Regions from separate parts of the Homo sapiens genome. Here region 1 is linked to region 2. The links come from fine-mapping of genetic effects on gene expression. A gene starts in region 2. The other region holds a variant in brackets. All regions are shown on one strand. Distances are from middle to middle.

Region 1 (2,822 bases), 130 kb before region 2:
AAAACTCAACATTTGACATATTTTGTCCAATGTTTTTGTAATGACATTTCATGAAGTTAAGTACCTATTATAAATAAAAATCTTGTTTTTGCTCAATATTATATAACAAACAATTTTCTATTAATTAAAAACTATAGTTAGAAATTGCTTTTTAAATATCATAGGGAAGCCCTCTTTGTAAACATCTTTTTTTCTCAAATCATTTTTGTAGTTTCTTTTTCCACTGTTAAGAGGTAGAAAAAGTCTGTTTATGTAGCTGAAAAGGAGATAGCATAGAGTGAGAAAAACCACCATAACTAGAGTCTCATAGGTCTTTAATCTCCATTACTCAAATGATTAACATTCTACTTCCATCTAGTTGAATTGCTGAAGTCAAGGCATCTAGTGCCAAGTAAAATAAAATTATTTCCCAAATTATCAGATAAAATTAGTGTAAAACATAGGAATGATATATGACTGAAGGAAAAAAAAATCTGGCCAATATTGGACCAATTCAGCAAGATTAAAATCTATAAACAAAAAGAAACAGAGAACATTTTCTCACTTCTTATTCATTAAATTTGTTTTTATTTGGGGTGGGGATTCAGAATTTATGTACAACACATCTCGAACTTTTCTTTTTCCTCCTGAAGGAGCACCACTCAAGGATGATGTAAATTTACTATGCTACTCACCTAGTAGAAAGAAAGAAAGAATAATACCATTCTCTTGGCATGTCTCTCTATGGAATACCTGCTGCCTTTCTTTGGTGTCATGTCAACAGTGTGTGAAAGATGTCTCATTTGTTTGAGAGTTAGGAATTCTACAGGGAGTAGATTAGAATAGAGTAGCATGAAATGGAAAGAAACTCATATGAAAGAATAACTTTGTAAAAATTGTTTTGTCTTTTAGATTTCTGACCCTTCTTTTAATAAGCCCTGTTTTGTCTCGAGTTGGTCATGAGTTCAGTTGGCGCTGGATATTCATAATGGTCTGTAGTGAAATGAAGGGGATGCCTAATATAAACATGGCCCTTCTGCTTGCCTACTCTGATCTTTATTTTGGATCTGACAAAGAAAAATCTCAAGTAAAGAAAGCTGTATTTTCTTATCTGAATATTGTATAAAACTATTACTGTGTATTTAAAATATATGTTTTTTTGTAGTGAGGTAGCTCAACTTCACTTGGGATGTAGGAGTGATTTAGCTATGATGGCAAGATCGGGGAGAGGAGGAACAACTGGCAACTTTCCTTCTCCCCTGAAATAGGTTTATTACAAAGATCAAAGTAATTAAAACTTATCAATCATTTAAAATAGTACCTGGCATAAAAGGTGCACTCAATAATGTTTTAATTATTTATTGCACTCAAGAGAAGTGAAAACTTTCTTATGATTGGCCCTATTACCTTCTGTAACTTTCTGA[G/T]GCTCATTTAGTAATGCTATGAGCCAAAACATTTTAATTGTCAGGTAAAACACTCTAAACAGTACCCTCAAACTCTGCTTAGCAGAAAATACAGGGCATAACTCTCCTTCTACCATGTGTCTGGGCAAGATAATTACAAGGATCTCTGTAAGAAAATTTCTGTGCAGATATCACAGAGCATCTGATGCTTTTATCATCTGGGTTTTTTTTTTTAACAAAAATTCCAAATGTAAAAAGAGAAGTGGCAAGATAATCATTATGTATCTACTTAAATAATACTCAGTCCAAATATTTAAAAAACTAATCTTTAAACTGCCTTTAAAATCAAAATTATCTGATATTGCATGACCTCTCCCTTCTATCTATTTCTACAAGCCCAAATATTCAAGATCAGTGTCATCACCATACACCTGATCAGTGTGACGGCTAACCTTGTGCACAGATCTAGGTTCTGAAATTTTCAGCTTAGATGCTATTTGCTGCGTGGACATCAGCAAGTTTTTAATTTCCACCTCACCTCAAGTATCAGTTTCCTCACTCCAAAACAGACTTAATAGTATCAATGGTTTGCTGGTAAATATTTAACAAGTAACTTAAGTGTTGAGGTGAGAGGAAGTCCTAATTTGTAGTATTTGCCCATTTCTGTTGTGTAATCACTTCCACCAACAGAACATCAGTCAGCTCATAAACTTCCTGAAATTGAACGATTAGCTCTCATGAGCTAGTAAGAGCCAGCCTAGCACACTACTTTCACAAAGCATTATTATGAGAAACAAAAAATGTACATAAAACACTTGGCACATTGTTTAGCATATAGCAATTGTACAATAAATACAAGCTCTGATGATGAAATTATAAGTGATGATATACTTTGCCGTAGTGTTTTAAAATAAAATTTTAGTAAGTAAAATCATTTAGTAAATATCCTCACTAGAAGTAACTCCTTGAGAAGAAAGTAGAACTCCTTTTCTCAATTTAATCTAGCTGAACCCTACAGTTAATACTTACCCAGAGGCATTATAGTAAAGGGTTAAAAATACTAACATCAAAGACATATTGCCTTTTTAATTCTGTCTCTACTACTCATAAGTTATGTTATATTGGGAAAGTCACAGTGCCCTAGATTCCCATCTGTGTAATTGTACAGTATTGGTAATTACCTCACAAAATTGCAGTGAAGATTAAATAAGCCTCGTATATTGTATTATTAGCCTGTTATATGTGTTAGCTCTTATTAATTTTAAACTATTTAACTAATTGAGTGGTCTTTTACCTAGAATGCAATGCACTTTAGATTGATTTAGGAACTTTTTGAAAAATATCAATGTCTGTGGAATTCTAGTCTTTACTATGATGAATAGTGGATATCAGACTTACTTTCCATAGTAAACAACTACAAAAATGTTTAAAATATATGAA
Region 2 (2,822 bases):
TGTGGATGTAATATAACACAGAGCTTATTTAGCAATTCACTCAATGAAGATCAGTTGGGCTATTTCCAGGGTATTTCGGCTATTATGAGTAAAGCACATATAAAAATTTGTACACACAGTCTTAGAGGACATAAGTTTCACTTGGCTAAATGCCTAGGAGTGAAATTGCCAGGTTGTACAGTAACCCTATGTTCAATTTTATAAGAAATTGCCATACTTCTGAGATGGGAGAGTTCCCTTGACCCCTTCTCGGGACTTGCGACAGGGGTGTGGCCTACTTACTTGGCCACCACCATGCTCAAACTCTCTGTGGGAGCGGGAGCACGCAGGCAAGCGGGTGCCAGGGCTTCGATGAGCACTTTTGGGCTCCAGCCCAACAGCAGCATTTAGGGATGTGTTACAATTCATGCTCTTTTAGCAGTTGCCATCCGTGGACAGCTAAGTGTTAACCCACTCAATGGAGAGTCAGGGTGGCAGCCTTTTACACCCTGCCCTGTTGGTACCCAGGTTCTTGTTCAGCATCCAGGAAGAATCAGGTTGCATGAATGGTTTGAAAGTTGATGGATGTGGACGATTTTATTAAATGGTGGAAGTGGCTCTCAGTGGAAGGGGAGCTGCAAAGGGGATGGTGCAGGAAGAAAGTGACCTTTCCCTGAAGTCTGCTGTCTCTGGCCGGGCTCCTCCCTGAAGTCATGCCACCTGAAGTTAAGCCACATCTCTGACACTCAGTTGCTTCTTCTCCTCTTGATGTTCAGCCGCTTGTCTGTCTGCCAGCTGAGGTCTGGGGTTTATATGGGCACGGGATAGGGGGGCTGGACAGGCTAAAGAGTAACATTTGGGCAGGATAACAGGGATAACTGTTCTCATTTAGGGCTTCGGTTTCAAGGCTTGAGGGTGGGACCTTTGCCAGTGAACCACCCTCTTCTACCCAGTAAAGCCCTGCCTTCTGTCCTTATCACTTCTTTCCAAAAAGGCTGTCATTTTGCATTCTCATCAGCAATGCATGAGACTTCCAGTTGCTTTGCATACCTTGCCATACTTGATATTGTCAGGGTTTTATAGCCATTGTAATAAGTATGTAAAAGTGTTCCATTGTGGATTTGATTTACACTTCCCTAATAACTACAATGTTTAGCATCTTTTAATGTTCATCTGTATAGTTCCTTTGGTGAAATGTCTGTTCAAATATTTTGCCCATTTTGTTACTGGGTGTTTGTTTTCAGATTTGAGAGTTGTTGATACTATATTTTCTACAGGTCTGTGGCTTGACTGTTTTAACCTCCTTCTGACTTTTCTAAGAAGACAACGTGATTTATAAACGTAAATATCTGTAGTGGAAAAACTCCCATGGCCCATCTGTAATTTCAGACCTGGGATTCCCCAGAGGTTCGAAGCTCTCATTGACGGGTAGTTGCTGGTTATGGCCAACAGCCAGGTTGGTTCAGGCACTGACATGTTAGGACATTCTGCACATGCGTGCCTCTAACACTCCTCCCCCAGCCTCTTCCTTCCCTCTGCAGAGACACCCTTCTCCTTTCTGCTGTCTCTGCACGGGTGGCCAGAGCCACACAGCCCTTTCTTTAAGTCAGGAGTTGCCCTGTCAGAGCACAAGGCAAGAAGGAAGTGGTAAAGGGACGGAGGGGAAGCCCTGAGAGGACTGAGAGGATGGGAAATTCTCTGCTGAGAGAAAACAGGTAAGTCTAGACTCCCTGTGGGAGAGCAGAGGAGATGGGACAGGACAATACAGCAAGGAAGAGAAAAAGAAAGCTAGTATACAGTTAGCACACTAAGTTGGGGTAGAAAGTAGTTGGGTAAGGAAACTGCCAAGCCTTCAGTGCCTACTCTGTGCCAGATACCACATTAAATTTCCCATAGGTTTTGCCTTCTCCCAAGAATCATGGTGAGCAGCTGATGGAGAATAGCTGAAAGGTGGAAAGACTTTACCAAGGAAGGTCTATATAATAGGTTACCACCTAAGAAATGAAACAACTTTCTGAAAGCCCGGGAAGGAGATGCTCTCCTGAGCTCCTCATGCTCCACAAGGAGGTCAAAATCACCACCCTCTTTCAGCCACTATTTTAAGTTTGAAATAAACAGCAAGCTTCCTGCCACCTTGAGTCTTCCTTTGATGTGCACTCCCTGCAAGCAGGTAAGCAGAGGTCATCTAGATTAAATAGGCACAGAACTCAGATTTACTTTCTGGACCTCAGCCTCTTTATTTTAAGTAGAAATAATAATACAATATCTACCTTAGAGAGTTCTAGTGTGTATTGTGCTAGCATAGTGCCTGACATAAAGTAGGGTTCAAAATTAGAAGATATTTTCTGCTTTCTTTTTCTGACCATCATCTTCCTTAATATCAAAGCCGTGCCACCAAAATAGTGCCACCACAGACAAGGTAATCTCTAGGGTATAAAGTGGGGTGATCTAGAGAGAGTAAGCGAGCCAGAGGGGGTCTTCACAGGGTTATGTTTGGAATCCCTGGTCTCAGTTCATGCTACTGGAGAGTGGAACACAGGAAAAAATGGTAGCCCACTTTTGACCACTTGCCGAAAAGAGGATTGGTGGTCCTGTGGAATATCTCATGTCCCTTCCTAAGAATCATGTTGTCTGAGACTTCTCTACCCTGGGTTGTCACAGCCCCTTGTCAATCTTCTACTCTAGCATTGTTCTAACAATTATATAAATTACTATTTTTATTACTAGATATGAGATGCTCAAATGTAGTGATTGTTTCTTATTTATCTTTGAATTCCTGGTTCCTGGCATTGTTTCTGGCATATCACGTGCACTGAATAAGTGCAAAAAAACTTTAAAAAAAT

What was found.
Region 1: its variant is fine-mapped to the expression of GCSAM in nasal epithelium (TOPMed, PIP 0.98).

What each region holds. Positions count from the first base shown.
Region 1 is chr3:112,261,168-112,263,989 of GRCh38, reverse strand. It overlaps SLC9C1 (solute carrier family 9 member C1), which reads left to right. Exons shown (of 29, transcript NM_183061.3): 10 at 892-1,066. Among named protein-coding and RNA genes, the nearest start is that of SLC9C1, 32 kb to the left of the region's middle. The variant G/T (reference allele first, on the strand shown) is at 1,404.
Region 2 is chr3:112,131,964-112,134,785 of GRCh38, reverse strand. It overlaps GCSAM (germinal center associated signaling and motility), which reads left to right and starts at 1,538. Exons shown (of 6, transcript NM_152785.5): 1 at 1,538-1,694. The coding sequence starts at 1,666. TBILA (TGF-beta induced lncRNA) reads right to left here and starts at 1,363. Exons shown (of 1, transcript NR_157393.1): 1 at 1-1,363. It also overlaps a transcript of C3orf52 not described here. RefSeq lists enhancers at 1,213-1,392, 1,873-1,932.